2 separate regions of the Homo sapiens genome follow, and region 1 is linked to region 2. Evidence: fine-mapped expression QTL. Tissue or cell type: tibial artery. Region 2 holds a variant in brackets; the other region holds the start of a gene. All regions are shown on one strand. Distances are from middle to middle.

What was found. PIP is the estimated chance that this variant, and not a neighbour inherited with it, causes the effect.
Region 1: it holds the start of SLC13A4, and the variant in region 2 is the best candidate, but not a certain one, in a credible set for the expression of SLC13A4 in tibial artery (GTEx, PIP 0.55).

What each region holds. Positions count from the first base shown.
Region 1 is chr7:135,722,505-135,733,706 of GRCh38, reverse strand. It overlaps SLC13A4 (solute carrier family 13 member 4), which reads left to right and starts at 5,521. Exons shown (of 16, transcript NM_001318192.2): 1 at 5,521-6,309. The coding sequence starts at 6,211. It overlaps FAM180A (family with sequence similarity 180 member A), which reads left to right. Exons shown (of 4, transcript NM_205855.4): 3 at 1-61; 4 at 3,426-4,115.
Region 2 is chr7:135,681,121-135,692,322 of GRCh38, reverse strand. SLC13A4 (solute carrier family 13 member 4) reads left to right here. Exons shown (of 16, transcript NM_001318192.2): 12 at 678-775; 13 at 998-1,122; 14 at 6,640-6,801; 15 at 8,062-8,199; 16 at 10,623-11,092. The coding sequence ends at 10,760. It overlaps LOC105375521 (a long non-coding RNA gene), which reads right to left and starts at 5,312. Exons shown (of 5, transcript XR_928021.3): 1 at 5,001-5,312; 2 at 3,295-3,419; 3 at 565-752. The variant G/ATG (reference allele first, on the strand shown) is at 4,547.

The DNA of each region.
Region 1 (11,202 bases), 41 kb before region 2:
AGGCAGAATTCTGATATGCTTCAACCCAGAGCAGTGGCCACACACTCAAGAGTGAGAACAGGCCGGGCACAGAGGCTCACGCCTGTAATCCCAGCACTTTAGGAGGCTGAGACAGGAGGATTATTTGAGGTCAGGAGTTCAAGACCAGCCTGGGCAACACAGTGAAAACCCATCTCTACTAAAATCACAAAAATCAGCCGGACGTGGTGGCGCACACCTGTAATCCTGGCTACTCAGTAGGCTGAGGCAGGAGAACCAGCTGAACCCAGGAGGTAGAGGTTGCAGTGAGCTGAGATTGTGCCACTGCACTCCAGCCTGGGGAACAGAGCGAGATTCTGTCTCAAAAATAAAAATAAAAATAAATTTAAAAAAGAGTGAGGAATGAGCTAGAAGAGACATCATGGCAGGAAGATGGGGGACAGATTCCTTCGGTCCTAAGGGACTAGGGTGCTGGGTTGAATGAACATTTTTCCAGAGGTTCTACAGTAAATATAAAGAAATTAGAGCTATACCCAAATAAATATATTATTTGCCAAGGATATACTTCTTGACTTTTCCAAAAGTTGCCAAGAATAATCCATTAGAAAATCAGTAATTTTATGACCTTTATGTCTGAACTCTTCTTTTCTGAAAGCTGGCATAACACAGAAGAGAAACAGGAAGGGGCCCACAGCCCAGTCCAGCCATTCCTTGTCTTTGAATAGAAAAACCAAGCTAATGCACAAAGAGTCTCCCAACGAACAAGGTGGCATGTAGGCCCGTGCCTGTCTGTCTTCATGCAAAAATAATTTAGCATCATCAGACAACTAAATGCTCCAAATAAAAATGATTTTCAGATGACAGAATTCTACCCTTTCAAATGCCAAAACTTTCCTTTTATAGATATTGACTCGATATCTTTTTAAACTATATATACAAATCACCTTAAGCTTTTGTTTAGTGTAAGATCATCATTCAAACATTCTTGTGTGTGTGTGTGTGTGTGTGTGTGTGTGTGTGTGTGTGTGTGTGTGTGTGATGGAGTCTCGCTCTGCCATCCTGGCTGGAGTGCAGTGGCACTATCTCGGCTCGCTGCAGTGTCTGCCTCCCGGGTTCAAGCGATTCTCCTGCTTCAGCCTCCCGAGTAGCTGGGACTATAGGCGCGCACCACCACACCTGGCTAATTTTTGTATTTTTAGTAGAGACAGTTTTTCGCCATGTTGGCCAGGCTGGTCTCAAACTTCTGGCCTCAAGTGATCCACCCGCCTCAGGCTCCCAAAGTGTTGGGATTATAGGCGAGAGCCATTGCGCCCGACCATGTCATCATTTAAACATTCTAATGAAGGAGTTGGATAAGATAATCTCTAAGACTTCTACCTATGAAGTTCCTACAATCCTTTAACTGTGAGATGCCACAAGGAGAGCACCTGGATCTAAGAAGTCAGCTCAACTGTTTGTACCAACCCTGAGAGGTCCCAGACTGCTCATTCTGTGTTCAGTTCTGAGTTTCCCTGCTGCCTCCCTCACTGTCAGGCTATTAGAGCATATTTTTCTTTGTTACCAATGTAACTTGCCCTTCACAGTCTGTTCTTTCTTAGCTGGCCATTGCCTACAAACTACGATAGCCAGGTTTGTTATAATTCTATGTTAAATAAGAGTTAATAGATGAAGTCCTCTGCTAGGGGTCGAGCGTCTGGGTCCTAATAAGGATTCCTCATTAGCTCAGAGATCTTTCTGTCTTCTCCTAAGTTTACAGCTGAGCTCAGCAAGCAAAAGCTGCAACAAGTCTGATCTTTGAATGAGTGAGGATTTATTGGGCTAAATTTGATTCTGAAATGGGTATTTAACAGTTGTCATTTGATAATGATGAGGTCTGGACTCCTTCAAAATCTTTGAGCAAATAAGCTTTGCATAGCAGTGCTAGCCGCATGATCTTTTTGGAGAAATACTAGGACACTGGAAGAAGGTATTCATCATCAGAGAAAAACACAGCTTTGCATCCTGATATTCTCAGGCTCAGAAGATTAGTAAGTCTCAGTTTCTCTTTCTCATTCCCTGACCATTCTGCTCTTTTACCTCCTCCAAATGCAGATTCTGATATATGCTTTTTTTGTTCAATCTTTCTTTTTCTAAATGTACATATTCTCTCTGACATGGTCACTCTGCTTGTCTCTGTCTTTCTTTCTTTTATTTTAGTTGGTATCTCTGCTGCTGTATATTTGGGCCCAATTCCAAATATCTCTGTATCTGTTTTTTGATGCATCTCCAAGACTCTTCTGCTTGACTTTTGCTCTATCTCTGCTGACCCACACTCTAACACTCACTGTCTGTCAGTCTTCTCTGGGTATCATTGTCTAAGTAAAACACAAGTCAGTGTACAGACAGCGTTGGGATCGGCCAGAGGCAGATAAACATGGTAGCCTATCTTCACAGTTTGTACTTTTCCTAGATGTCAGATGGGGAGTGGATTAGCAATGGCCTCAGTCCCTAGACACTGTGCAATACCCTGATAGTCAGTCTTGTATCCCGCCCCGAGGCTCCACTCCCTTGACAATGGATCTGAAAGCTTTCTTGTACTCAGAATCATCAGATGGAAAGGCCCACCCTTGTAGTCCCTGACCACCATGTTATGTAGATGGCTGCTCCCAGTAGTAAGAAATCCATGAATGGGAAGATGGTTCCCAGGAACATTCACCCAGCAACAAAAAAATTAAACACAAATTGGGGCTTGAATTTTTGTGGCAATCAATGACTGAAAAAAAAATAGAAAAAAGAAGGACATGACCTTTTTAAAGACAAATGAAGACTCATTTTCAGTAACTAGAGTCTTAAAAACTATTTTAATCTGAATGCAGATCATTGTTTACCCACAGAGAGTTTTATGACAATGATTTCACTGACATGCAGAATCAAATATTATGATCACCACCAGCAGCCAAAAAACCCTATTCTTTGCCCAAGGAGTAGTAGAAATGTAGACTAGACAGACAAACAGGGTCTCCTATTTTGCCTCATTAGTGCCACACTCTATACAACTACAGTCACGAAGGGGTCACATTTGGTTATAATTACTATTAGAATAATATGGGAGTGTGATGTTTGTGGTGGAAACTTGCCCATGACTTATGTAACCATTTCTGCTGACAAATTTTAGGATCTAAAAACTTTGTGGGTTTTTTTGTTTTGTTTTTGTTTGTTTGTTTTTGGGACAGTCTCGCTCTGTCACCCAGGCTGGAGTGCAGTGGCACCTCCGCCTACAGTGTTCAAACGATTCTCCCACCTCAGCCTCCCAAGTAGCTGGGACCACAGGCACACGTCACCATGCCCTGCTAATTTTTTTGTATTTTTAGCAGAGATGGGGTTTCACCATGTTGGCCAGGCTGGTCTCAAACTCCTGACCTCAAGTGGTCCACCTGCCTCAGCCTCCCAAAATGCTAGGATTACAGGCGTGAGCCACCGTGCCTGGCCCAGGATCTAAAAACTTTCTAAGTTTCCTCCATCGTTGGCATCCTCACAGCTATCTCCAATGTCACTCAAGAGACATCAACAGACATTTAACTGCTGCAGACTTCATTGCTCTGTCACCTCACCTTGAATCTAACAAATCAAAGTATTTCTGCAGGTCCAATGGTCTAAAATCAAATGCTTGTTAAATGACTTTTTACAACACCCCTTACTTTCCTAATCCATTTCAATCTTATTTTTTTTATTGTGGTAAAAAACACATCAGGTAAAATGTACCATCTTAACCATTTTTAAGCATATGGTACAGCAGTGTTAACTCCATGCATGTTGTGAAACAGACCCCCGGAACTTTCTCATCTTGTAATTCTGAAGTTCTATACCCACCGAACAACTCCTCTTTTCCCCTTCCCCCTGCCTGCCCCAGCTCTTGGCACCATTATTCTGCTTTCTGTTTTTGAGAGTCTGACTACTTAAGATACCTCATACAAGCGGGATCTGGCTTACATTTCTTGAGCATTGTATTCTGGAAAAGTGTTTCCTTCCTCTGAAAAATGGGTAGAGTTCTGAAGGAGAACTACTGGTCTTATTGTACACTTGCTGTACCTATTTTTATTTAACAAATATTCATCTATGGTATAATAAAGATGTCATGATTGAGTTGCTCACTGGAATCTTTGTTATCTCAGAGTATCTCACCGAGGAATTTGGAATGGTTCATGGGTTTAACAGTGGATGTTGACTTCCACAGCTGCTTATAATTATTCGCTGTCTTTAATGTTTGCGACCAAAACATCACACACGTGGTATTGTTCATTCTGAGTTTCAAAATCATAACCAAAAAAAAATGAGGCCAGAATGTAGTAAATACAGTAGCCAGTCTTTAACATGCATTTAAAGAGTTGAGTCATCCTAGCCCATCCTACGATGGCAAGATAATTTCAAAGGGGACCTCAGCTGTCCACAGTTGCACCTGCCTTAAAAGTCAAGAAGAATTTGTTTTTTGGGTCACTTCCCTGGTCACTTTAGCCTGGGGATCATTTCCAAGTAGTATAGTTGCAGATCTTCGAACGCCATTCCTGTGTTCTGTGAATTCAAGACAACATGGGTTTTATAACCCTTTGACTCTGCTCAGCATCTCCCAGATCAAGGTAAGGTAATGTTGCCAAGAACCACTACTTACAGAATGTTTGGGCTTTTGCTTTTGCTTTTCTTCCTTGCCCCAAATCCACATGTCCGTTCTGAGAAAAGAAGCTAACAACTTCTTCCAATCTGTAAACAGGAGAAATTCCAGAGTTCAACTGCAGCTAAGACCTTGTCCCTGAACTTGTCAACTTCTTCCCTGCCCTCCCACCTCCTCCTTTCGTACCAGCCAAAGAAGGTCTTCGGTTTCCTTTTTGGAGAGCCCCAGAGAGAAGCATTTGAGCACCTACTTTAGCCAGAGAGACCACTGACATCTGGGCATGAGACTGGCATCTAGACTTTGCCAGGGAGGCAGCTATACTTCCCAAAAGATCTGGGGTCTTTCTCACGAGCTCATACCCTCTGCTGGCCTAGACCCTTTATATTCCCCCCTCGGTGCTGAGGCAAACGATCTTTGCCAGCAGGGAGGTCTGAAAGGCTTAACTTTGTACACTCTGAGGCAAATTCTCCAGAAGTAATGTTGCATTTTCTCCCTGCCACCAGGCACATTCCCTTCCCAAGGTCTAGATCAGCAGGTGGCCCTCCCAGCGAAAGCTCTGTGTCCTATGATCCGAAACAATAAAGCTGTGCTTGGGTACGTGAGATTATGTTTACGATGATGGTCATCACTCCAGCCCTAGGAAGTTTGAGAAACTGAAAAATAAGCTTAGCAGGCTGCCTAGGTTCTGCGGAATCAGCAGGCCCCCGCTGTGACCAATCAAGAGCGGCCGCGGGGAGAGAAATTGACTCATTCTTTTCAATTTGCTGATTGGCTTTGAGAAGTGGGCGGAGCTACTGTCTCTGTCCCGGCTTCCCATTGGTGGATGAAAGTTAAAGGTGGGCCTCCAGCAAGTTTTGTCCTTTGATAAAAAGGAATGTCTTGGGGACTTTTCTTTTCTGCTTTGCAGGCCCAGGCTCAAGGCAAATTATAAGTAGGGAACCAATTTGAGGGAAAGACATGTGAACAGAGTTAAGGTACCACGTCCTGGGAGCGACCAGCAGCCCCACCTGAAGTCCGCATGCAACTCTGACAAGCTCAGGTGCTTGTTTTAAGGAAAGGGGCTACTAGAGTCTTACCAACAGCGAGCCCAGGTGGGAGATGAAACAGGTACTCCCCAAAATAGGTCATCCGAGGGAGGAAAACTGATGGAGAGCACAATGTGCTCTGAGCGTTTTTAATGTTTTTAAGCTTTTAAATGATTTCTTCAAGGCCGAGCAGCAGCAGCAAAGGTGTGGCTTAAAGGATTAAGGGGGTTTCTGCTGACACCTAGAATGAAGTTACTCTATTACTAATCAAGCCGAGAGGAGGCCCACTATGCCCCCGTTTATCATCCTTTCCCAGTTCCTTTTTGCTGGTCACAAAACGATGCTCATCAATCCCACCTAAAGCAGGAGGCCAGGAGCCCAGCCTCTTGTAGAAACAGCGAGGGTATAACTGCCCTCCCGTTCTGCCCCCAAGACGAAGGAGGACTCTCGGAAGCCAAGAAAGGTTTAAGAAGTCTTTCTGGATAGAGAGCAGTGCCCAGGCAGGAAGCCTTTCGCCGGCAGAGCGGGGTCCAAGGACGAGCTGGAGAGGACAGAGGCGCGATGGGCCTGCTGCAGGGCCTGCTCCGAGTCCGGAAGCTGCTGCTGGTCGTCTGCGTCCCGCTCCTGCTGCTGCCTCTGCCCGTCCTCCACCCCAGCAGCGTGAGTACCGACCTGCGCCCACCGGGGGTCTGGGAGTCAGTGGGAGGGCAAAGAGGGGAGGTCGGTAGGGGAACATGGGGCGCTCAGGCAGTCCCTCAAAGTGGCTTGTGGTGGGTTTAAAGAAATGGAAGGATTTTTCCAGAGGAAACCAAGATATCTTCTTCCTAAAAGCTGTCATGTTCATCTCCTATCCCAGTCCCATTCCCCCAACCCCATGGCCCCCACCGGGGTCAGGACAGAGTAGGGGCCTTGGCAGAAGTGACTGATGGGTGTTGCACCAAGCAGCAGGCCAGCCTGCCCCAGCAGCGGGGGCCAGCGACACCCATGCAAACGACATGGTGCACCTGTGTTTGTCGGGAGTTCACCTGGGACCCTGGTTATCTGAGAGCCCCTGGAGACACAGAAAGAGCTCCCAATAGTGGCACTGAGGAGAAGGTTGGGGGAGGAAGAGAACCGTGGAGCCAATCCGTGGTCTGTGGTCGTGTCCTGGTGGGCTTCGATGACCACAGTTGAAGCTCTAATCCCGAAGGCGCCTATCAACTTCAGGGAATGAATGTTTAGGGAAGGAATGAAAGCAGAACTTAGCAGGCTGCCCTGCTCCCATGCACGTGGCCTTGAATTATTTGTGTCTTCTGTGTTTTCTTCTCTGTCCTCTTGAAGGACAGACAAAAAGTGACACGATAAAAAAGAGATAAGAGCCCCCAAACTCTAGCCCGTGACCTCATTCTTCACCTGGTTTGTGAGAACAGAGGAACCTCAGCTCTGGCTCAGCATCCAGCTTGCCTGTCACACCCTCCTGGTGGTCACCTGCTTCCCTTCCCTTCCCTCCGCTGTTCTCTTCCTCCTGTCTGTGGCTTGTCCCCTTCCCCCAGCTGGCACTGCCCTGGAGACTTTAGGAAAAATAAGCTAAAACAGGTTAATCACGTTTGTAGGAGGGGGAGCAATTCTTCCACTCTGCTCCTTAAGTAACTTGGTAACCAAGATTAAGTTAAACAGTTAAACAGAGGGGATTAGGATGGTTCTTCTTAAAAACAAACTGGCTTAAATCTTTCATAGAATAAATACTCCAGAGTGCCAGGGAGACGCTGATTAAAACTGGGCTGGGATTAGCAGACAGTGATTGCTGCTGACATTCTTCCTGGACTGTACCCTAGTCAATTTTCTGCTTTGTCCAAATGGGCCTGATTTTTTTTCTTTTTGTGGCTTTTCTTGTTTTTGTTTTTTCTCCATGTAGGTTGCTATAAGGGACTGTTACCGAGAGACATACTAGCCTCCTCTCCCAAGCAGTATCAGGAACCTCTCATATCTCCTGGTTGAGGCAGCCCCATCTTTGGGGACCTTGGCCACTGCCCACAGAAGGCACAGACTAGGTGCCCAGCAGGTAGAGTTTCATCCATCCGTCACCCCTTTCATCAAACTTTTTTTTGTAGACGCAGAGTCTCACTCTGTCACCCAGTCCGGAGTGCGGTGGCACAATCGTAGCTCACTGCAGCCTTGAGCTCCTGGGGTTAAGCAATCCTCGTGCCTCAGCCTCTGGAGTAGCTGGGACTACAGGCAAGCAAGTACCACCACATGCAGCTAATTTTTAAAAAAATTTTTTTTGTAGAAATGGGGGTTTCACTATGTTGCCCAGGCTGGTCTCAAACTCATGGTCTGACGTGATCCTCCCAAAGTGTTGAGATTACAGGTGTGAGCCACCGTGCCTGGCCTGCATCAAACTTTTAGAGTCTGATATTTAACCCTTAAAATTCCAAATGGATTTTCTTGCTCTGGACTGGAGTTGAGAGCAGTGATGGAGTACCTGGGCAGGAGCTCCTGGCCTGCAGTTTTGATGGTTCTAAGCGACAAGCCTCAGCTACATTTTAGGAGGAGTCAAAATGACCTTCCCCCTTTTTCTTGCCCAACTCTCTAAAACTAGAGGTCCAGACACTGTTTATCATGTTATAGAAGAAGAGGGTACAAGAGACAGCATCCATAACTAAGCCCTTCCTCAGTGCCCCCAGTGGGATAAAAGTTGCATCTCAACTGCCCAAGCTAAATTTTTTAAAAGGCGCCCCCAGTCATTGATGATAACAGATAACAGACTTCAACCTCCTTCCCGTGAAGTTGGAGTGGGATATCACTGGGGTGGTCAAACTGCGTGGAAAACGAGCAGTTCCACGCCTAAGTGAGTAGCTGACTAGGAAACGTCCTACATGGGGAAATGCCACTTTCGAACTCTTTCCTTTACTTGTAAACGGGAGCCAAAAAATAGTAGATAGCATGTCCCTTGAAGATATTGTCTGAACACTCACCAATGCCCAACCCCCACATACCTGCTATTATAAGGAACCAGTGGTGTTGTTAAAGAGCCTGGGGGTTGCAGAATATTCTCTCCAGAAGATGAGCGAGACCTGACAGCCAGCAGAGAAGTCCAGTGCAGTTCAGCCCACGTGAATTGAACCACCTGCTAGACATGGGATAGGCGTTGGGGACATCGGACTCCTTGTAAGCAAACTTTGCAGTATTTTTGGTTGTCTGAATACAAGCTTACCTCCTGAATTTTGGGAAGCTTTAGAAGGGGAAAAATGAAGTTTATGGAGATTCCATGGGTGAAATAAGTGGAAACTGTATGGAAAGACTCTCTAAAGGTGTCTCTTGTCCATTCTTCTACTCTAAGGAAAATCCAGGTAAAAAATGATAGTAATTAATCCTGTCCTTAATACAGCTGGGTGAAGGTGGCCTGATGACTTACTTCTTCCAGTAACCTAGTCGCATGTCTAACAATATTTACAACCAAAATGTTTGCTTTATTTTACCCACATTCTCCTAATTGAAAACTAAAGGCACCTGGCAGAGGGAAAGTCCTCTTTCTTTCTCTCTCTCTCCTTTCTTCTTTTTTTTTTTTTTTTTTTTTTCTGAGACAGAGTCTCACTCTGTCACTCAGGCTCTGGAGTGCAGTGGCACAACCTTGGCTCACTGCAACCTCTGCCTCCCGGGTTCAAGGGATTCTCCTGCCTCAGCCTCCAGAGCAGCTAGGATTACAGGCATGTGCCACCACACCTGGATGAATTTTTTGTATTTTTAATAGAGACAGGGTTTCGCCATGTTGGCCAGGCTGGTCTCGAACTCCTGACCTCAACTGATCCACCCACCTCGGCCTCCCATAGTGCTGGGATTACAGGCTCTTTTCCTCTTTCTCCTTTCCCTTTCTCTGCACCTTCTCTCCCCACCTCCTTCCCCTTAACTTGTAACTTGTAGCCCTGTAATGACCAGATCAAGAAAGACTAAGGGTTCCAGGAAGAAATAAGGGTCCCCAGTGAGGGGCAGACATTTTGTCTCTCAACTCTTTCTCTTCAACTGGAGTTAAGATCTGCCACTCTGTCTCTTTCCCAGAAGAGAGATGAGAACACGTGGGTTTGAACTCCTTTAGGTAGTTTTATTTCTATAGCAAACAGGGTATTTCTCTAAATTGAATTTGTTTCCAAGTGGAGCCTCTTTTTTTTTCCACCATTGGTTCTGTTGTCTTATCAGCACTTCCAAAAGTTTTATCTTCCCTCTGATCTTTTGGCCCCAGAGAACATCTCAGTGGGGAGCTACAGTCAACTTTTGGGCCCAGTTCCCATTTCTCAAACCCCAATCCCATAATCCACGAATGTCAGGAGGGCACAAGGTCCTTGCCAGCCCAGCTGATTTAATCACTCCTGCTGCCCCTTACTGATACAGCGACCTTTTGTAACTTTTATGCAAGAGTTTGAGGACGCGTGTTCTGAACTCAAGGGGCCATAAACAGCAAGATTTGTCAGGTTCCTTGATCAGCAGCCAGCCTCAGGGCAAATCAGACACGAGTCCTGATGGTTTACAACTATGTAAAAATTGAGGATCCCACAGCCAACTTGGATTTTCTATAAATGCTCTTCTGAGTCACGGAGCTTGGTGATGTTACCATTAACAAGGCCCATGAACTGCAGCCTCTCCCTAGAGTAAGGCGGTAACCTGTCTTAACAGCGTTCATCAGCATAATTCAGGGCAATCAACACAACTAGAGGGCAAGCTGATGGAGGGCTGGCTTCTGATAAGAATGTTGTACTTAATTACCCTGTGCACCCCTAGGTTGTCCAGCCAGCAAAGTGAGTGGGCTATGGAAAATGCTGGTGAATGTCCAGGCCTCCCCTTCCAGATAGATGGCTGTCTTCAGTCTTTGTAGATGGATGTTTCCATGGTGTCAAGCGGATAGAATGGAGTCCAAGAGCAACGAGAACCAGACCCTGGTTAGGGCAGTGGCTCTCAACCAGGAATCATTTTACCTCCCCAAGGGACATTTGGCAATGTCTAGAGATGGTTTTTTGCTTGTCACAGTGGAGGAAGTGCTACCGGCATTTAGTGGGTAGAGACCAGGGATGCTGCTCTTTTACAGTGCACAGGACAGCCCCCCTGCAAGAAGAAACTATGTGGCCCTAAATGTCAGTAGTACGAAGGTTGACAAACACTGAGTTAGGAGCTGATGCTTCTTCATCCAAAATGAGAGTTCCATGCTCAGGATCGCTGCCTTCCTCTTCAGTCTTCCCTTCCCTCTCCCAGGGAAGGGAGCTCCTTATTAACTCTTACAGGGGCCTTTGGGAGAAGGATTCAGTCTCTAGATGCAAAACATGGTAGGACCTCAGATCCAAAATTGAAGGGGGAAATGGTCAACCAGTTCTTCAAGTTGCCTAATAATTTATTTGATTAAAATTTACTACTGAATCAAGTTGTTTCAGCAAATAGTCTAAAACAGGGGGATTTAACTTTGTTTATTCATTTTTAAAGCAATAAAGCTTTTTTTTTTTCAAATCTCACATGTAATGTTCGTATATGAATCAAATGAGAACAAAGCTACTCCATTTGGGATGAGGCTGGAGAGGGGGTCCAGATTCC
Region 2 (11,202 bases):
GTAAGTGATATCATTTCCTCCTTAAGAACAACCCCCTCACCCCAATTCTTCAGGCAAGACTTCATAGACTCTCAGGGGCAGATATGAAGCCAGGAAGATTTCATTCCCCAGGAAATCCACTCTTTTTAGGGAGGCTGCAGTGTGAAATCAGGAAGGAAAAACACTCTTTGGAGTCCCGGTCTGGGGTTGGAATCCAGTGCTGCATGTAGTCTCATTACATAAGCTCTTGGAAGCTTGGTTACCTCATAGGTGGTTATGAAAGTTAAAGGAGGAAACATCTATAAAGTACCAACTGTAAAGAAGAAATCAACTTCTCACTTGAGAAGGGAGGCACATGGAGGTGTGGCCTTCATAGGAAAGAGGTCTCATCCTCTTCTATTCTCCTTTATCTAACCAACTCCACTCCTGATCACTCCATCTAGGACTTGCCCCAATTAACGGGCTCACAAATTCACATTAAGACATCTACTCTAGCCAGGCCCTGCCTCCAGACATTCGCCATTGCCCATTAAATCCAAAGTGGATAGCGTGGCAGCAACTGGCAAGAACTAAGCTTAATGTTACCTCTAGATAAGTCCTAAAAAGAGGCACTGTGTTCGGACAGACTGCTCCGAGACATCATGTTACTCCTGAAAATTCCTGACCCTTCTCCTCAGCTATGCTTGTCTCTTTACTAGGAAAGGCTACCGTACTGATGCCACAGTCTCTGTCTTCCTTGGCTTCCTCCTCTTCCTCATTCCAGCGAAGAAGCCCTGCTTTGGGAAAAAGAATGATGGTGAGAGAAGGGAAGAAACTGGGGGTAGCTCTAGTTGAAGAATACCCAAATCAGACTAATACTCCCAAAGAGATTTACCAAGGTCCTTCAGATTCCCACCCCCCTCCCGGCCCCCGCCCCAAATAGCAGTATCCCAAATCATCCACTTCACCAATTAGGCTCCTGTCTCCACAAATCACGTCCATCAGGGTTTATCTGGCTTTACATCTCTCTCTAATCCAGGAGAGAACCAGGAGCACTCACTGGGGACCGAGCCCATCATCACGTGGAAGGACTTCCAGAAGACCATGCCCTGGGAGATTGTCATTCTGGTTGGGGGAGGCTATGCTCTGGCTTCTGGTAGCAAGGTAATTCTTGAATTCTGTTTTTTTGGGGTTTTTTTTTTTGAGACAGTCTTGCTCTGTCACCCAGGCTGGAGTGCAGTGGCACAATCTCAGCTCACTGCAACCTCCGCCTCCTGGGTTCAAGCGATTCTCTTGCCTCAGCCTCCCAAGTAGCTGGGATTACAGGCGTGCACCATGATGCCAGCTAGTTTTTGTATTTTTAGTAGAGACGCGGTTTCACCATGTTGGCCAGGCTAGTCTCAAACTCCTGACCTCAAGTGATCCACCTGCCTCGGCCTCCCAAAATGCTGGGATGACAGGCATGAGCCACTGCACCCGGCTTGAATTCTGTTCTTATGGGTCAAATACTTTTCCAGCATCTTTACCTAATGAGTCATTATGGGCATGGGAGGAAAGACTCAAAGCAGCTGAGAATGTTCACAGAGTCCCTGGGAAGGGAAACAATAGAGCAGGATGGATGTCCTCTGCTGCCCTAAGCTTCTCAGCGCTACTAGGAACAGAGGAACAGATGGGCTGTGCCACACAGTCATGACACATGGGCATTGATAGTTCATCTATGGGGCCCATGCTGCTACAAGCAAAAGGTTTATTGGAGTTTGCAGCCATCTCCTTCTGGGATTTGACAGTGGCAATAGGAGATGGTAACAGGAGATAGACATAGGTAATAGGTAATAGGAGTGGTAATAGGCGATCTCTGTAAGGGACCAGAGATGCTCCAAGTGACACATGGTGAACTGTCTGTCCACAATACATAGACTGAGCCCCTTTGGAAAATCTAGGCTAAAGCTGATGTAAATGCTTCTTGATTTTCTGACTGGGAGGATTTTGGATGAGATCTTTTAAGTGGGGTGGGGATGTGAGGGGATGATTGAATTTCCTAAAGTGTTAGCCCTCCATAAAATAGAAAACAATCTTAAGAATGAATTAGGTTAAGGTTCAGACTATTTCTCCCTCCATCTCATCTACATGCATTATCCCATGCTAAACTTGGTTCTCTTTTTTTTTTTTTTTTTTTTTTTTTTTGAGACAGAGTCTCACTCTGTCACCTAGGCTGGAGTGCAGTGGCGCCATCTCTGCTCACTGCAACCCCTGCCTCCCAGGTTCAAGCAATTCTCATGCCTCAGCCTCCCAAATAGCTGGGATCACAAGCACACGCCACCACACCCAGCTTAATTTTTGTATTTTTAGTAGAGATGGAGTTTCACCATGTTGGCCAGGCTGGTCTTGAACTCCTGGCCTCAAGTGATCCACCCACCTTGGCCTCCCAAAGTACTGGGATTACAGGCATGAGCCACTGTGCCCGGCTTGGTTCACTTTTCATGGCCCAAAATACTATCTGCATTATTAATAATAAGGTCACAGAATACTCCACTAAGGAGAACCTTAGAAAACAATGAGTCCTATCTCCTGCCCATGGTGAGATTCCCCTCCATGGCACTTCTGGCTTGGACACTTCCAGTGACAAGGTACTCCCTGGGCAGGGAACAAAGAATAATTGTTCCTTATTTTCAGCTCAGGTCTTCTGCATGTTGTCTGTCCACTGTTGGCTCTAGCTCTGTTCTCTGGGACCCTCTCCTAGATAATAATTATTAACATGAAAAAATCAAGTAGTAGTGACCCATACCATCTGGTCTCTCTCCTCAGGACTCACTACACTTGGCCTTATTCAAACATAGTCTATGGGGTGGTCAGTCTACTGCCAAGTAGAGTAGTTATATTACCCAAGCCCCATCTCTCACCTCTGATTCAAGCAGCACCCTGCATTTTTATGGAAGCTTTTATAAAGCATCCTTGGCACTCATGTCAACAATTATATTAAAACTGCAGTCAATTAGAACCCTTCATTCTTTTTAACTGTTCATCATTACTGGACCTTCACCCCATCCTATATATATGCCATCAATATTTCTCATTCCAAGTTCGGGATATTTATATTTATCTTTATTGAATTTCAGTTGTTAGTTTTGGCCTCTGACAAGATTGGCCTGGCAAGATTTTATTTTTTTTTTTAACCAAAATTGGGCTGGGCACAGTGGCTCATGTCTGTAATCCCAGCACTTTGGGAGGCCATGGCGGGAGGATTGCTTGAGTCCAGGAGTTTGAGACTAGCCTGGGCAACATAGTAAGATCCTATCTCTACAAAAACAAAAGTTAGCCCAGTGTGGTGGTGCGTACCTGTAGTCCCAGCTACTCAGGAGGTTGAAGTGAGAGGATCGCTTGAGCCCAGGAGTTCAAAGCTGCAGTGAGCCAAGATCCCACCATTGCACTCCAGCCTGGGAGACAGAGGGAGACCCTATCCCCTGCCACCAAAACAAAAAACAAGAACAAAAACAAAAAAAAAACAATAAAAACAAAATTGTGCACATATTAGAGATAGTACAGTTATTTCTGTAAAGCCTACTGCCTCTACTAATTTTAATAATAATTTAGGTAGCATATATGTGATTCCTACAGAGTTTGAAATAATTTCAGTTTTGACATTAGTGAAGAAAATCCATTGTAAAATGTTTTCATACCAAGAGTTTAAAGAATTAAGACTTCCTTTGATTGTGTTTTTGTCTAACTTTGAAGTCTAATTTATTTCAAATCATAGTATAAAATAGTTCTGCTGGAAAAATAATTGCCAATAAATTATTTCACTTTACTAGGCCGGGCATGGTGACTCACGCCTGTAATCCCAGCACTTAAGGAGGGTGAGGCAGGAGGATCACTTGAGGCCAGGAGTTTGAGGCTAGCCTGGCCAACATGGTGAAACGTTGTCTCTACTAAAAATACAAAAATTAGTTAGGCGTGGTGGCGGACACTTTTAATCCCAGCTACTTGGGAGGCTGAGGCAGGAGAATCACTTGAACCCAGGAGGAGGAGGTTGCAGTGAGCCGAGATCGTGCCACTGCATTCCAGCCTGGGTGACAAAAGCAAAACTCCAGGGACTGGGCACAGTGGATCATGCCTGTAATCCCAGCACTTGGGGAGGCCAAGGTGGGTGGATCACCTGAGATCAGGAGTTTGAGACCAGCCTGGCCAACATGGTGAAACCTCGTCTCTACTAAAAATACAAAAATTAGCCGGGTGTGGTGGCACGCGCCTGTAATCCCAGCTACTTGGGAGGCTGAGGCCAGAGAATTGCTTGAACCTGGGAGGCAGAGGTTGTGGTGAGCCGAGATCGCACCACTGCACTCCAGCCTGGGCGACAGAGTGAGACTTCCTCTCAAAAAAAAAAAAAAATTTAGCCGGGGATGGTGGCACATGCCTGTAATCCCAGCTACCCAAGAGGCTGAGGCATGAGAATCATTTGGACCCGGGAGGCAGAGGTTGCAGTGAGCTGAGATGGTGCCACTGCACTCCAGCTTGGGTGACAGAGCACAACTCTGTCTCAAAAAGAAAAAAAAAATTATTTCACTTTACTTACCAGTACTATTTGGATAAC[G/ATG]TTAAGTAAAACTCCATCTCTTTATATAATGTACCATTTCCATTCAACTAACTGCTGTTCCTCCCCTGCCTCTGTCCAATGAGCAAGGTTTAATGTGTTACCAGAGGGAACAATTAAAGAGTTCCTGGAGGCCTTGGGGCTCTGAAACAAGCATTAATTGATGCAGTCTGCACATATTGGGTTTGTAAGCTCTCAGTGAGTTGAGAGGAAAAAAAGGAAGAAAAGTTCTACAAGGTGAAGTGGCTACAACAGAGAGAATTCTGAAGGCCTTTGGTCCTCAGTTGTCTATGAGCTTGCCAGGAGGTGGCCAGGGTACTGTAGAGATGAAATGAGCTTTTGATGAATTTGGAAGAGAGGAGAAAAAGTAACATGCTGGCAGTGTAGGGAAGGCGGTATTTAATAGTAAAACATGTGTAGCAGGACTTAAGAGCTTGAGGAATCATAAATGTCTCACCTTCCTTTCTGTCCCTGCTCTCCATATTGTCATTGCATTCGCAGTTTCTAGGGTACCATGGGAAAAGGCAGAGCCTGTCACCATAGAAGAGAGAGAGGAAGGGAGGCAGGATGCATATGGCAACCTGGAGTTTTTAATACAAAACTCAATGATACCTTTCATTTTTTAGGAGAGGGAGGTAGCCCTCCCTATTTGCAGGTGAACATCTTCCAACCAAATGAATCATTCCAAGTGGGAATATTTATTCATTTATTTTTTATTTTTTTGAGACAGAGTCTCACTCTGTCACCCAGGCTGGAGTGCAATGGCACAATCTCGGTTCACTGCAACCTCTGCCTCCCGGGTTCAAGCAATTCTCCTGCCTCTGCCTCCTGAATAGCTGGGATTACAGGCGCGTGCCACCACACCTAGCTAATTTTTGTATTTTTAGTAAAGGTGGGCTTTCACCACATTGGCCAGGCTGGTCTCAAACTCCTGACTTCAAGTGACCTACCTTCCTCAGCCTCCTAAAGTGCTGGTATTACAGGTGTGAGCTACCTCACCCAGCCAGAATGTTCATTTATTTAAGTGGATGTGTGTAACTGTTGCTAGTGGAATAAATTCAGGACGGTCAATATGCCTTCATATCTGTGTCTTCAAAAAGCACTGGCAGGCCAGGTGCGGTGGCTCACACCTATAATCCCAGCACTTTGGGAGACCAACGTGGGAGAATCGCTTAAGCCCAGGTCTGTTTGAGACAGGCCTGGGCAACATGGAAAGACTCTGTCTCTACAAATAAAAAGAGCAGGGCGTGATGGTATGTGCCTGTGGTCCCAGCTACTTGGAAGGCTGAGGTGGGAGGATTGCTTGAACCCAGGAGGTTGAGACTGCAGTGAGCTGTGATCATGCTGCTGCACTCATCCTGGACCCTGGGCAATAGAGCAAGACCCTCCTCTTAATTAAAAAAAAATTCCTGACAGATAGTAGAACTAATGTCAGCCATGATGAGATTTGAACCTAAAACAGGTTGGGGCTGAATGACCAGCCTCTATGGCACTTAAGAGGCACCTTCTCCACTAAGTGGAAATAGACTTTTATCCCCCTCTACTTTATTACTCCTGTAAAACCTCCAGTGCTCAGCCCTGCCTGTTCATCTCCTTAAAAACACAGGAAAGGCTACTATCCACAGATGTTGATAAATTTTTCCCTTTTTTAGGTAACAAAATAAACTGGTTTCAAAAGCAGATTAAATGGCTATACTTGGCACTCTGTGAAGGGCATTGTCGAATCAATGCACAGGGTAAGGATGTCAGAGGCTAGAGAAAGGGTAACGAGACTGAAGTTGAGGAGCAAAGATCTCCAACCTCTGACAAGTTGTCATGGCAAAGTCCTAAGAAGGATCATGGCAATTAGGGTGGCTCTCCATGTCCCATGACGAAACCCAAACACTGAATGTTGTGCAATCATAAAAACCAATTTTCTGAACTACAAAAATGATCGAACCATAAAAATCAGGAACACCTCTGGTTCCAGTCAGACTAAAGATCAGAGGATCCCTGGTCGTCCAGCCTTCCAACATCCCTGACCTTCTGAAGTCTAAGATCTCTAGCTGGGATGTGCTTCTTCTCCTTTCTTCTTACTGTAACACCTCTTCCTACAGAGCTCTGGCCTCTCTACATGGATTGGGAACCAGATGTTGTCCCTGAGCAGCCTCCCACCGTGGGCTGTCACCCTGCTGGCATGCATCCTCGTGTCCATTGTCACTGAGTTTGTGAGCAACCCAGCAACCATCACCATCTTCCTGCCCATCCTGTGCAGCCTGGTGAGTAATGCGGAGCTCCCAGACATCCAGACAGGCTGTCCCAGGGGCCTGGAGTGGCAGGCCTGGCTCAGGGCAGCTTCCGTAGCTGTAGGCTCTCCTCTGGTTACTGCCCACAGCCTTCACTAATTGGTGTTCAATTCCTATTTTGAAAAATGAAGTTTTTCAAATAGCAACTAGTAAATAAAAAGATACACTAATAAATCATAGCAAGAGTTCTAGAAACCTTTGTCCAAAAGAGTAGGATTAGTTTAGGGGCAGCCCTGAGTGGAAACCAAAGAACATACAAAATAATATTCAAACCCTATCATTTCAATTCCCCGCAATCATTATCAACCTTTCTCTCCTGAGATAAAACCTGAGTAGGGCCAAAGAGGTAGCCACAGAAAATGGAGGTAAAACACACACAGCTGAAAAGACTGAGCTCACAACTCAGACAATCATCACAGCCTCCACTGAGTTTCACTGTCCTCCGGGAAGTTCTGAGGATTGGGAGCAAGGTCAGCTTTGCTCCACAACCTCAGACCAATTTGTTGTGAATAGAATAAGGGAGGGGAGCAACGGCCAGATCTTAGCCTGGCCAAGCAGCCGGAAAGGTGATGCATCTGACCCAATGCTTCATCTGTCCCATTCTGGGAGGCAGAATCCAGGAAATGAAGGCCCCTCCTGACCCCAGCAACATAGTCTCCTACTGCTCTTTCTAACCCCAGAGCCATACTCTCTGCTCATTGCTCAGATGACCCCAACTTCTCCCTTCCGTCATCTTGCTCCTGCGAGCAACAGAGTGCAGTTAAAACTTGGCAACATTGAGAGCAGGACCATGGATTCAAATCCCATATAAAACAATTATCTTCCCTAGGAAAAAAAAAAAAAAAAAACCACCTTAGTTCTGTACCCTAAGACTGAGGAATCCCCACTTCAATCAAAGCAACCTATTCATGAGATTTGAGTTTAAGGAAAGGAAGTCTCAGCTAAAGAATAAAGTTTAGGAACCAATTCCTTAGAATAACACCAAAAAAATCAAACATCCCTTCTAGGGAGTAACTCAAAGCCATATTTCCATGTGGAGCAAGTAAGCAGCATCAGCCTATTCAGGTTGTCAAGGGACTGCATGCCCCAGAGGGCAGAGACCTAACTACCCCTCCACATAGTGTCCTGCTAAGGTTAGCCAGCACCAAGTCATCATTAAAGCATGCTCCTGACATTAAGCACAGGAAATGCAAGCCTAATCTCGTGAATGTTTCTGTGAATTCTCTCTTCTAGTCTGAAACGCTGCACATTAACCCCCTCTACACCCTGATCCCAGTCACCATGTGCATCTCCTTTGCAGTGATGCTGCCTGTGGGCAATCCCCCTAATGCCATCGTCTTCAGCTATGGGCACTGCCAGATCAAAGATATGGTGAGTTGGGGTGCCCTCTCCCTGCCAGGCCCAGCTGCCATGAGGACAGGGATGACAGCTCTGCAGCCTTCTTTCAAAGCTTATTTTGTAGCAGTGTCCCTGGCCTGTCAATGCTAAACCCAGTGTGGTAGCAAGAATAGCACCTATAAAAAGGTTTTTGTTGGTCTATAAGCACCAAGGATAGCAAGAATGTGCTCTCCCCAACCCTTCCCTGGAAGGAAGTGGGTACCTAGGTAGAGAAAGCTGGAACAGACAGGCTGTGGCCCAGTTCCAGAAGGCATGAGCCTGTGCAAACAAGTTTTGCCTTCGTTTCTTCATTAGGCCAGTGGAGACATTCATTGAGAAAGCTACTGGTTTATTCACAGAAGATGAGAATGAGGAAGTGTATGAACCTAGGGTGAAAGGTATTTTGAGAAAACAGGATTCTTCTGCTCAACTCACCCTCCACCCCGGCCCAGGCAAGAAACCCCTGAAGCAACAATGGAAAATGAAGCGTCCACCATTCATTTTCATTTTCAGCTGGGCTCACAAAAGATGGCTTTGAGATATTTTGCTGCTGACTTTAGCACTGGGCCTATCTACCTTCTACTCCTCTACCTATACACCTGCTGCTATACTTAGTATCCAGGGCTGAGCGGGGGGGGAGAGGATGGAAAACACTGATACGAATTACTGATGGTCTGACAATTTTTTTTCATGGGAGCCAAATTTGTTCTCGGGCAGCCCTGTAAAGTAACAAATAGAGGAAAGGAAGAAAAAGTTTCAGGCTGGTGGCAGATATTCAGGTCCTTTTTTATCCTTTTTTTTTTTTTTTTTTTTTTTTTTTTGAGACAGAATCTCACTCTCACCCAGGCTGGAGTTCAGTGGTGCGATCTCGGCTCACTGCAACCTCTGCCTCCCAGGTTCAAGTGATTCTCATGCCTCAACCTCCAGAGTACCTTGGACTACAGGTGTGCGCCTCCATGCCCAGCTAATTTTTGTATTTTTAGTAGAGATGGGGTTTCACCATGTTGGTCAGGCTGGTCTTGAACTACTGGCTTCAGATGATCTGCCTGCCTTGGCCTCCCAAAGTGCTGGCATTACAGGTGTGAGTCACTGCTCTCAGCCTATTCAGGTCCTTTCGACTGTTCGAACTGCTCATCTAAGTCATCCGTGATACTTCCTTGAATGGAGTGTCCCAGCCATCCCTCTCCCCTCCCATCTTACTGCGTAACCCTCAGTCTGCTCACGCTGAGCTCTACCCCAGCTCTCCTGTCTCCCGCTTCCTCTGCTGTGTGCCCCCACCACTGACCCCTAGCTTTCTACACTGGAATCAAATGATCAGAGGCAGTAATTTTCAAAGGTACCAGGTGACAAGAAGTGAGCCAGTCTTGGGCACTATTCCCAGCTTGGGCACTACCTTGACTTCAATTTCCTCATCTGCTAAATGATGAGGTTCCAGCTGGATGCTCCATGGGGTCCCTTTCAACTCTAACACTCCTTAATTTAGCCCTGCTAGAACCTGCCCTCTCACCTGTGGGGAAACATGGGCTGTCCTCCATGCCAAAATGCCCAGGGGGCCCCGACCAGACGGCAGGAGAGAGAGGACACGTCTAGCCATTTGCTTGAAACAATTTCCCAGCATCCACTTTCCCCTTGCAATTTTCCCAACTTAATGCCAGCTAGTGACTTGTCTTGGCTACATGCTATATGCCTGGTTACTCCTTGGGAAGATGCCAGCTATCCTTACAGGACACATTTTTCCATCTGGCTCTGCCAGCCCACCATCTCTCACATCCCCCACTTCAGCCTGTGGGTGTCAATGTCAAGGCAGAAGTGAAAAGGGTCAGTCACTGAGGTGTAATTCCCTCAGAGGAAAGAAGCAAAGGCTCCATTCCAGCTAGCATGCCTGTGTCCCCTTCTTGAGGAAGAGCTGAGCAGAGGCAGCTAAACCGTTTCCCCAAGTGAACTCAAGGTACACTATTTCCATGAGCTGTTCCTTAAAAAAAGGTAACAGTAGCAAAGGCTTCATGTAATATAGCCCCTCGTACAAGTTCCCTGTATTAACGCATCGGGGCTCTGAGAAGTTCCTGCTTTACAGAGATCTGGTTAGTTTTGTTTAGCACATTTCCCTATCAGTGAGCTGCAGAAATACCTCTTCACGTTCCACAGAGTGGGTGTTCCAAGTAACTAACATACCTTCTAGGCTTCCACTTGAAATCTAGTGAGAGTGCTGTAAGCATGAAGTGGAGATGACTCTAATTGTCCCTTTCCCGCCTTTCCACAGTCCTGTGCACCCTACAAGGCAATGCTAGAGCACCCCAGGCAGCAACTGGGAACTAATCTGGGCCACAAGGCATAGGCTGCAGGAACAGAAGGGGGACTTGGGGATCTGTGCTGCTGCTGGTCAGAGTGACTAGGGTGTGCTGGTTTGTGTCCTGCAGGTGAAAGCTGGCCTGGGAGTCAACGTTATTGGACTGGTGATAGTAATGGTGGCCATCAACACCTGGGGAGTTAGCCTCTTCCACCTGGACACTTACCCAGCATGGGCGAGGGTCAGCAACATCACTGATCAAGCCTAACGCCAAGTGTACAAACTGGCCCAACCACAGGAGCTGCCAGTATCCAGCAGTATCTGGACCACAGGCAAAGAAAACCACTAGGACCACCAGGAGCACACAACCCCAGACCCACGCCGGAGGGCATCCCTCCACCAGAAGATTCCGCCACCTCAAGTGAACTGCAGGAATCCTCCAACAACCACAAACACATGCTTCGCTGTTAGTGTCTTCTTCCTGCCCTCAGCACCACAGCTCAAGAAAACCTAAAGTTTCAATACAAGCCATAGGCTCACAGAAAAAGAAAAAGAAAATAAAAATTAAATTAAAAAAAAAGAAGACAAAGAAAACCTAAAGTTGTATCTAGTCTTTGTAATCCATTCATTCTGAAGACAGGAAAAGAAAGCCTGTCTTAGTCACCCTTCGGAGGCTAAGCCTTGCAAACTCACTAGGTTTTATGTTATTC